Linked DNA regions of Homo sapiens. The protein of the gene in region 3 interacts with the protein of the main gene of each other region in a pairwise test. Each region holds a gene or a part of one and is shown on either strand. Other genes may lie near its edges. The genes, in order: CWF19L2, RALBP1 and CCDC88B.

What was found.
Region 1: the proteins of CCDC88B (region 3) and CWF19L2 interact in binary tests that used the Homo sapiens proteins (3 or more experiments, as listed by UniProt).
Region 2: the proteins of CCDC88B (region 3) and RALBP1 interact in binary tests that used the Homo sapiens proteins (3 or more experiments, as listed by UniProt).

The regions. Positions count from the first base shown.
Region 1 is NC_000011.10:107,444,216-107,447,865, forward strand, and holds part of CWF19L2 (CWF19-like protein 2), read right to left. Parts: intron 1-3,650.
Region 2 is NC_000018.10:9,516,941-9,520,590, reverse strand, and holds part of RALBP1 (ralA-binding protein 1), read right to left. Parts: coding exon 3,288-3,650; intron 1-3,287. UniProt on the Homo sapiens protein: Multifunctional protein that functions as a downstream effector of RALA and RALB. As a GTPase-activating protein/GAP can inactivate CDC42 and RAC1 by stimulating their GTPase activity.
Region 3 is NC_000011.10:64,350,189-64,353,838, forward strand, and holds part of CCDC88B (coiled-coil domain-containing protein 88B), read left to right. Parts: intron 1-971; coding exon 972-1,067; intron 1,068-1,287; coding exon 1,288-1,428; intron 1,429-1,941; coding exon 1,942-2,198; intron 2,199-2,555; coding exon 2,556-2,699; intron 2,700-2,865; coding exon 2,866-3,052; intron 3,053-3,162; coding exon 3,163-3,308; intron 3,309-3,526; coding exon 3,527-3,625; intron 3,626-3,650. UniProt on the Homo sapiens protein: Acts as a positive regulator of T-cell maturation and inflammatory function.

The DNA.
Region 1 (3,650 bases), about 43 Mb from region 3:
CATGCACCGCCTTCACACTCTCACTTTCATACATTTTCTCAAAACTCTACAATACATCTACTGTCCCCATTAATCTACTGAAACTTCTCCAAACTCACCAGTGGCTTCCACTGTGCCGAACTCAACAAAACGTTTCAGTCTTCAGCTCTCTAGACCTCTCTGCTTAATGCAACTCTGTTGATAACTCACTTTCCTGGCTTCCATGACACCTCTCAGCTCTCCTCCCACTCTGTTTCTTCTCCATTTCCTTCATGAACTCTTCCTCCTTTGCTTAGCCCTTAAATATCTTGTTATTTGGGATTCCATTCTTTGCCCATGACATTTTTCAATGTCTAAACATTCCCTTTGGGCCATTAAATCCATTCTGATCGCCTGAACTACAATAAATTGTGCTGATATCTTTCAAATTTGTCTAACCAAAGTTTCACTGACTAATTGTCTACTGCAGTTGGATGGCATGCTAAACTCAGTAAGAACAGAAGATAAAGCTATCCTCTTCTTCTACAAAATCTACTTCTCCTTGTATAGTATTGAACTGAGTTATCTGGAACAACCAACCACCCACTTAAACCAAGTCAGAAACTCAGGATGATGTTACCTCACATATTCAAGCCTACCATTTTCATTTTTAAAATATTTATTAAATATACCATAGAGTGAATACATGATTACCATACGAGCCTACCTCTATCCCTGGCCACTACTGATTAGTTCAAACGTAGGTACCTGACCCAATTCACATCAACCTGAGCCATTCCACAGGAATCTGAAATCAGGTCTAAATGGGCTTATCTAAAACTAAGAAATGGGAAGGCATTGGGAGAGGCCATTTCTGTCATGAGAAATAGAAATCAGCAAAAATTTTTTAAAAACTAGAACTCAGGGTAGGGGAAATGAAAAATGGCAAGAAAATTGCAAAAACCATTCACAATTCTAATTCCAGCTATTCTTGAAGCCTAGCTGCATTCCTACATCTATATGTCTTATGAGAATTTTGTACTTTAATAATAAATCCTTTTTGCAAAATCCAATTTATATTTAGTTTCTGTTACCTGCAACCAAAATACCAACTAATATTCTCTTCTTTGATCCTTAAAGTAGCACCCCAGGCTGGGCGCGGTGGCTCACGCCTGTAATCCCAACACTTTGGGAGGCCGAGGCGGGTGGATCATGAGGTCAGGAGTTCGAGACCAGCCTGGCCAAGATGGTGAAACCCCATCTCTACTAAAAATACAAAAATTAGCCAGATGTGGTGGCGCATGCCTGTACTCCCACCTACTTGAGAGGCTGAGGAAGGAGAGTATCTTGAACCCGGGAGGCGGGGGTTGTGGTGAGCCAAGATCGTGCCATTGCACTCCAGCCTGGGGGACAAGAGCAAAACTCCGCCTTAAAAAAAAAAAAAAAGTAGTAGCCCTAGATCAGATCTTATCTCTCACCTAAACAACTGATTCCAGGAGACCTAATTAATCTCCTGGACTCATCTTTCCTGCTCCCCTTCTTTCTCCAACCCCTCACCCCAAATACATTTAGAGTAATATAAAGGGAACATCTGACCACCGTACTTCTCTTCTAGGGCTTCCCATTACAAAGACTGCTAGTTATCCCTCTTCTTTCCTACCAACAGAATCCCATTTTATTTGGAGAAGTAATGTACTTCCCATGCTAGAAAGTGAAGCCTTATGATCAAGTGTCCAATTAGATGTAAACAAAAGTATTTTATGGGACTTTCTGGAAGTCAAGTTAAGAAAAAAAAGAGCATCTTCTTTCCTGTTATCTGGACTAAGAGGCAATGCTGTAAGGATGATGGAAAAGCAAGACAATAGAAGCCTAGGTCCCAGAAGACCATACTAGCCCTAGACTGTCTACCTGACTTATTTCATATCAGAAAAAAATGAATTTCTATCTTGTATAATCAATGGCTATTCTGAGATTTTCTAATAAATGCAGCTGAACCCAATTAGATGATACATTCCCTACTGAATAAAGTCAAAGCTCTTGGTTTACAAGGCCCTATTAATTCTTACAGTTTCATCTCCATTCACCCCCTCCTCTTGTTTTATAATTTAGTACTATCAAATTGCTTATAGTTATATTTACATACATACACACATACTCACACTCATATTATCTCATACTTCCATGTCTCTGCTCTCGCAATTCCTTATGCATGAAATGCCAAGCACACCTTTATTTGCCTAATGCTTACTAATCTATCTAGTCTCAATTCAAGCATCATTTAATCAACAAGTTAGCAAATGAAATCCCTCTTAATACCCTGTACTACCATGGCATCATGTTGGATGGTATGCTAAACTCAGTAACAACAGAAAATAAAGCCAACATCTTCTTCTACAAAATCTACTACAAAATCATATTATTAATATTATGTATCTATTTATCCAATTAGGAAATGAGTTCCCCAAAGGTTTAAAAATATATTTTTATATTCCCCATGTCTAGAACAGTGTCTGGCAAAGAATAAGCATTTGATAAATGCAAGCTGAAATTAAATGAAATGTCTTTTTCTACTCTTTCAATAGCACTAGTCAGAAACTTTTAAGCAGCAACCTATACTCATTTTCACAATTATGCACTCACTCACCTTACCACTTCAGCAAAATTGATGCTCCCCATGCTACGACTTCAGTTCTCTTGCTAATTTTAGTTTCAATCTCCATTTTACCTTGAACTCATTAACTATCAAGCTTAATACGCCTCCTGACCTAACACAGCCTTCAGGGCTCTCCTTCTCTTGTGCAGCCTGCAGAATTAACCACACCTCTAATTCTATCTAGTGGTCAAAACCTAGAAGGTGGAACTAAGACAGAAAAGTGCTACCAGCAAAACTCAAGGGATCTTGAGGACTTCTGCTTCTGTCCTTGACAAAATAAATGGCATCAAACTAGAAATACATACAAATTGGAATAAAAATGAAACTACAATCTCTACAGCTTTTTATCTAAAGGCACTTTCTAGACTGTGGCATAGAGGGGTAACCCAAGCAGAACATGAAAATCTCACTGAGCAAAGGAAACGGAATTTGAACTTTGTGAAGGCTGAAACAAAAGTACAGATGGGAAGTTACACAGAGAAAGGGTGCCAGAAATCTACTTAAAGGACCCCTGGAGTCTTTAAAGAAAGACCAAGCTGAACATGCTGAGGATGAGAGTCCACAAGGTCAGGCAAAGAAAAATTACCATGGAGAAAACAATTACCAAAGAGCTGTAAGCAGAACAATCCCCAGAGCTCACAAAGGGCTGGAAGACATTCTAGTTCCTCCCAACCAGAATAAAGAAACCTCGCTGAACATCCATGACAATCAGCAGAGAACCCACAAAGGTCATGCCTTAGTAGAAAGGCTAAACCAGTCCTAGAGTAAAGCTATTCTAGGTGCATACGAACAAAACTTAAAAACAATCCTTGAAAAGGATTAAGCTAATTCACAAGTAATTAACTGTATGCCAAAAGGAAACTCAATACTCTCTGAAGAAGTCAACAAAATCCAGCAGTCACAATATAAGTTTCATAGGGTTCAGCATCCAATTAAAAGTTACTAGACATTCAAAGAAGCAAGCAAATGTGACCCATATTCAAGAGAAAAATCATTTAATTGAAACAGAACAGGAAAAAACAAGAGAAAATGAAACAGC
Region 2 (3,650 bases), on a different chromosome or scaffold from region 3:
GTATGGGTTTCTAAAATCGTTTTGCTTATTGAACAAAAGGAAACTAAAGCAAATGATTTGCAAACATTACATAAGATTTTAAGTCTTTAGTACAATCTGCATTAAGTGACGTAATTTAGTGGCGATTGCTCAGAAGAACACAAAGTAGTTTTTTGCTGTTTTTAATACTTAACACTTTCAGCCAATTATGTGAAACAAGCTACAAATTAACGCTGATAGTTTCTGTGGGTAAATGCAGTCTAAGCTGAACAGCACTTCACAGTGGTTCCTTACATCTGGACTTTGGCATTCCTTATCCTTTGTGAAAATCTTTTAATGGCATTATGATAAATCTGTAACTTATCCAGTATTGATAAAATAAAATCAATAACAAAACACAAAAATAACACTATTATTTTTATATAATCTTTATTTTGTGACAGAAAATTAGAATTCCCATTTTCTTACTTTTATGACAATATGGGTAAACCATAAGTGATAATAACTGAAATTCTTGGCAAAGATTTTTTCTCTTCCTCATGTATATTTAATTCTTCCCCCTATAGTACCTACCCAACAAATTGTACAAGTAGACAATTAGAATGTGTGTTTGGTTTGTCATTACTCTGAAACTGTTATCAAAATGTTTTCTTTTTAAAAATTGGACACTACAAATGAAGTGTTCCACAGAAAGAAAGAGCATACAGGTACACTTTAATCCAAAAAATACAAGAAAATGTAGATGAGTAAATTAAAATGTACAAAATCACTTAAATTGTCTTTCATATTCGTTTAAAATTAGATAAGCAAGAACTAACACTTCCAGCAAAAGGTCTTAAAATGCATAAGTGAGAACTAACATCTCCAGCAAAAGGCAGTATTATTATTAGCACTGTCCATGACAGTAGCATAAGTCGGGCTGACTACAGCACATTGCCACAGGTTAGAGAATAAACCCAAAACTCAGCAGAGCAGGAGTTCAGCCCCTAGCTGTTGCAAGGATGGGCAGCAGCTCTGTCTGAATGCTTTTACACACAGAGAAGAGTTCTATGACTCTGAATTTCCAAAAAAAATGCAGACATTAAAAGTAGGTCAGAGACAAAAAGAATCCTTTGAACAAAGCTGTGGAAAATTTTCAGAAAAACTTTTACCTAAAACAAAACTAATTCATGGCTATTAAGACCATGTGAGAGAAGCAACTTATGTTATTAATGTTTAAATGTTTAAAACTCAATTCAGTATATTATTATTATTATTTATTTATTTTTTTTTTTTTTGAGACAGAATCTTGCTCTGTTGCCAGGCTGGAGTGCAGTGGCGCGATCTTTGCTCACTGCAACCCCTGCCTCCCGGGTTCAAGCTATTCTCCTGCCTCAGCCTCCCAAGCAGCTGGGACTACAGGCGTGCGCCACCACTCCTGGCTAATTTTTTGTATTTTAGTACAGACAGGGATTCGCCATGTTGGCCAGGATGGTCTCAATCTCCTGACCTCGTGATCTGCCCACCTCGGCTTCCCAAAGTGCCGGGATTACAGGCGTGAGCTACCATGCCTAGCCAATTATTCATAAAAATCAAATATTTGTTTAAATATATTTATATAATACTAAGGAGTTATAAACTCAAATTCAATGCCTAATTTATTTAATTTTCTATAAAAAAGTAACATTTTACCAAAAATACTCTTAAATAATGGCATGTAATCTAGTGGATTATGTAACGGTTTTCCCAATTATCAAAAATATCTGCCCTTTCTCAGCAAAACTTAAGTATCAAATCTACCTTCTAGAATTGCGTATGAACCAACTAAATGAAAAAACTAAGTCTATCTCTCTATATATTCCACATGTGTATGACTTAACAACTCATCATGAAAGTACTTGTGACCAACAAGTATTATTATTATTATTTTTGAGACAAGGTCTCAATCTCGCCCTGGCTGGAGTGCAGTGGTACGATCATGGCTCACTGCAGCCTCAAACTCCTGGGTTCAAGTGATCCTCCTGCCTCAGCCAACAATTAACTTTATAAAACAAATCTCTAAACAGAAACTGATGAGGTACCAAGACACTGAATAATGGGAATGTAATAATTTGGAACACAGATGCTGCTACAGGTCAGGGCTTTCATCCTATCCTGGTATAAAAGTCATACCGCTTTCTAAGAAATCTTTTTACTTTTAAATAATATACATATTGCTTGATTTAGATACCCAATCAAAACACATTCTTTCCAAGTATGAAATTTAATTTGTATACATATGGAATAAAGATAAATAGAAAATCCATTTTGCTAATATACGTAATAGTTGCATGTAGCTGACCAAAGCATTCACATGTGGGGCCTAAACATTTACTGCTTCTTGGTCTTTTGGCTAAAGTTGGGTGTAGTATCTGTTCTAGGATTTCTGGAGCAGGGAGATGGAACAGAAGCTTGCTTGGACCACTCCATGTATTGACCGGGTACTGCACTAACTCTAAGAACCGCGCACCAAGAAAACCAAAACCAAAACCATGTCATGCCTCTTAGCTGAGCTAAGGAAATGCATTATATGACTGTGTCCATAAACGTGTCTCTTGGCCAAGAAGCTTCCTTCACACAGTTAACCTTTCTTTTCTTGCTGATGGCCCTCATACCACTGAGCCTCTGCTTAGAGAGGAAAGAAAAAAAAAAAAAAAAAAGCAGGCGCCTGGGAGTGGTGGCTCACTCCTGTAATCCCAGCACTTTGGGAGGCCGAGGAGGGCAGATCATCTGAGGTCAGGGGTTCGAGACCAGCCTGACCAACATGGTGAAACCCTGCCTCTACTAAAAATACAAAAATTAGCTGGGTGTGGCGGCAGGCGCCTGTAATCCCAGCTACTCAGGAGCCTGAGGCAGGGGAATCGCTTGAACCCAGGAGGCAGAGGTTGCAGTAAGCCGAGATCACGCCACTGCACTCCAGCCTGGGCAACAGAGCGAGACTCTGTCTCAAAAAAACAAACAAACAAAAGAAAAAAAAAAGCAGGGTCTGAATGCAGCCCTGTTAAGCAATGCTGCCAGTATACTTCACTTTGTTTTAGTCCTGGCTGCTGCAAGCTATGAACAACTAACGTGAAATCCTCCTAATGGAAGGAAATATTAAAAAAACAAATGCCAGAACACCAAAGAAAGGCTGGGGAGAGGGGTGGATTTTTGTGCAACTGGTAGGATCAAGGAAATGAATAAGGCTTAGGATCCAGGCCAAATTTTCCTCACAATAATTTTTCTTCCTTCGAAAAATGAAACTGAAGTTATTATTAAAAACCATCAAGTGAAGTGCACATTCCCAGTACCTGATACTCTGTAGATGCCTTCACACTTCATGCCATACTTCTCTACGTAATCTATACATTCACGGAAAACGGCTGGCAGCCGAATGCCATCATACATCATGGTCCTCTCTACTGCATCAGCCAAAGGAATTCCAAAAATGGGTTTGAGATTTGGAACATCAATCTGAGGCACCTCTGGCTCCTGAATTGGCTTTTTCTTTTTCTTCTTTTCCTTCCACTGTTTAACAACATCAGCTGCTGTCAAGTCTTTTGACTTCTTCTCTTTATGTTTTTCTTCTTTGTGCTTTTCTTCTTTATGCTTTTCTTCTTTGGGTTTCTCTTTTATTTTAAAATCCTTTTCCTTCTTTTTAGAAAAGCTGGGCT
Region 3 (3,650 bases):
CATGCGAGTCTATCAGGGAAGGTTTTGTGGAGAAGGTGGGGTTGAAACAGAGGCTTAGAGAAGGCCCCACACAGCAGCTCATGCCTGTAATCCCAGCACTTTGGGAGGCCAAGGCAGGTGGATCACCTGAGGTCAGGAGTTCGAGACCAGCATGACCAATATGGTGAAACCCCATCTCTACTAAAAATACAAAAATCAGGCCGGGCGTGGTGGCTCACGCCTGTAATCCCAGCACTTTGGGAGGCCGAGGCAGATGGATCATGAGGTCAGGAGATCGAGAGCATCCTGATGAACACCGTGAAACCCCATCTCTACTAAAAATACAACAACAACAACAAAAATTAGCTGTTAGCTGGGCATGGTAGTGGGCGCCTGTAGTCCCAGCTACTCAGGAGGCCGAGGCAGGGGAATTGCTTGAACCTGGGAGGAGGAGGTTGCAGTGAGCCGAGATCACACCACTGCACTCCAGCCCGGGTGACAGAGTGTGACTCCGTCTCAAAAAAACCCAAAAAAACAAAAAAAACCCTAAAAATTAGCCAGGCGTGGTGGCCCACATCTGTAATCCCAGCTACTCGGGAGGCTAAGGCAGGAGAATTGCTTGAACCCGGGAGGCAGAGGTTGCAGTGAGCCCAGATCACACCTCTGCACTCCTGGCTGGGTGGCAGAGTGAGACTCTGTCTCAAAACAAAAACAAAAAACCAAATAGTCTTAGAGGAGTAGTGGGATGGAGAAGTGTTATGAGCAGAAGGCTCTGCCGCAGAGAGACAGAAGTTGAGAAGGGCAGGGTGGTGACGGTGGAGCTTCAGGAACCAGGAGCAGGGACTTGTGGGATCCAAGGGAAGGCATGGGATTGGGGCGGGGTGGACTAGGCTAAATGCTGCTGGCAGGGCAGGTCCATAAGCGCAGGTCCTTGAGGCATCCCCAAGGCACTGCGGCTGTCCCGCATGACCTCCCAGGGACTCTCCTTGCAGCTGCGCCAGGGCCCCGCGGGGCTGGGGCCCAAAAAGCGTGCGGAGCCTCAGCTGGTGGAGACCCAGAATGTGCGGCTTATTGAGGTGGAGCGCAGTGTGAGTGTGGGCCCACAGTGGGCCCTGGGGAGGTGCCCCGTGCAGTGTGAGTGTGGGTCCACGGTGGACCCTGGGCTGGGGGGTATCCCGTGCAGTGTGAGTGTGGACTCACAGTGGGCCCGGGGGTGGGGGTGCCCCATGCAGTGTGAGTGTGGGCCTGTGGTAGGCACTAGGGGGTGCCCCCGCCACCTGGCTATTGCTAACCCCCACTTCTGGGCAGAATGCGATGCTGGTGGCAGAGAAGGCAGCTTTGCAGGGGCAGCTGCAGCACCTGGAGGGGCAGCTGGGGAGCCTGCAGGGCCGTGCCCAGGAGCTGCTGCTGCAGAGCCAGCGGGCGCAGGAGCACAGCAGCCGCCTGCAGGTGGGTGGTGGCCCGGGTGCCCATCCCTGCCCATGTACTGCCCCCTCCTGCTCCTTTTGGATCATCCTGTGGCCTTTTTCTATCCCAGCTCCCAGCCAGCTGCCCCACCTCTTCCCCAGTCTCATTTATCCTTGTCCTCTGACCCCAGCCACCATTTTGCACCATCCTCCCTGCCACTATCTCCTCCTACCTGCCGCCAGCCCCCACATCTACACCCATGTCGCCCTGCGCTCTCACTGTCCCAGCCCTCCCCTCCACAGGGCGCCATTAGTCCCATTCTGCCCTGTGCCCCTTCCGGACAGCCTGGCCCAGCCAGCCTCTGCCGCCTCTCCCCTGCTCACCATCAGCCTCTGGCTGGGGCTTGTACTGCCTGCTGTGCCCCCAGCCCTTTGCCTCCTCCACAACTCTCTCATTGTCTTGGGCCCTACCGTCTGCCCTTAGCCCCCCGCCTCTCACTCGATTTCCAGCCAGGGGTTCCTCCCCAGCAGCCCCTGCTTCCCTCCTCCATCCTAGGCCGAGAAGTCTGTGCTGGAGATTCAGGGCCAGGAGCTGCACCGGAAGCTGGAGGTGCTGGAGGAGGAGGTGCGGGCGGCACGGCAGTCCCAGGAGGAGACCCGCGGGCAGCAGCAGGCCCTGCTTCGGGACCACAAGGCCCTGGCACAGCTGCAGCGGCGGCAGGAGGCCGAGCTAGAGGGACTGCTGGTGCGGCACCGAGACCTCAAGGCCAACATGCGGGCACTGGAGCTGGCCCACCGGGAGCTGCAGGGCCGGTGAGCATCACCAAATGCCCAGCTCCTCCCCTGGCACCCCCTATCTGCCAGAGAAGACTCCCCTCAGCAGGTCTGACTCCCCATCAGGAAGCACCTCCACCTCCGCTCTGTGATGCCCCGGCCACTGCTGTGCCCTCTGGGGTAGCTGTGCTCCCCACACTTCTGGGTTGGGCTCCCCGTGGGGCTCACCTATTGGGAGTGGTGGGCACCTGGCATGGCATTCTGCCCAATGGCTTCCTCTGGGGGACCTAGGCTTAGGAGGTGACAGACCCCCCCGCCCCGGGTCCAGATAGTCCAGCCAGCTGCTTGTGGTGGCCATAGGTTCACACAGCCCTCTTAGCCCCTTGTCCATCCCAGGCACGAGCAGCTGCAGGCCCAGCGGGCCAGCGTGGAGGCACAGGAGGTGGCCCTGCTGGCAGAGCGTGAACGCCTGATGCAAGATGGGCATCGGCAGCGGGGCCTGGAGGAGGAGCTGCGGAGGCTTCAGAGCGAGCACGACAGGTGCCGCCCCTGCCACAGCCTCTAGCAGCTCTCAGTGGCCCCATCCTGAAAGTGGGTTGGGGGTGTGGGGTCCTGTCTGGCCTCCCCTCCCCGGCATAACTTCTCTGGCCAGCACTCGGACTGGGGACCCAGGTCCCTTGGAGAGCAGCTCTCCTTGCCTCCCAAGGGCTCAGATGCTGCTGGCAGAGTTGTCTCGGGAGCGGGGTGAGCTGCAGGGTGAACGCGGGGAGCTACGGGGCCGGCTGGCGCGGCTGGAGCTGGAGCGGGCACAGCTGGAGATGCAGAGCCAGCAGCTGCGCGAGTCCAACCAGCAGCTGGACCTGAGCGCCTGCCGGCTGACCACGCAGTGTGAGGTGTGGCTGGAGGGCCGGTGGGGGTATGGGCGTGTGGTGGGGCAGAAAGCCTAGACCCAGGTGGTCCTGAGCTGGGTCCCACCCTCCGAGCCATGGTGCCCCCCTGCCAGCTATTGACACAGCTGCGAAGTGCCCAGGAAGAGGAGAACCGGCAGCTGCTGGCTGAAGTTCAGGCCCTGAGCCGGGAGAACAGGGAGCTCCTGGAGCGCAGCCTGGAGAGTCGGGACCACCTGCACCGCGAACAGCGGGAGTACCTGTGAGTGGGCCGCCTGGGAGCGGGGTGGGGCCTGCATCCCCTTTGGGCGTTCCTGGGGAGAGCCCTTAGTGAGGGCCTAGGGACAGGGTTGGAGCTGACCTTCCAGGTCAGTCCAATCTGCGGCACGGGACCAGTGCGTCCTCGCTGCAGCTTGTGCCTTGCTACTGCCTCGGCCTCCCTGGGCCTCACACCCACCTCTCCCTTCTCACTCCTGCCAGGGACCAGCTTAATGCCCTGCGCCGCGAGAAGCAGAAGCTCGTGGAGAAGATCATGGACCAATACCGCGTGCTGGAGCCTGTGCCCCTGCCCCGGACCAAGTGAGCAGCCCTGTCACCTCCCTCA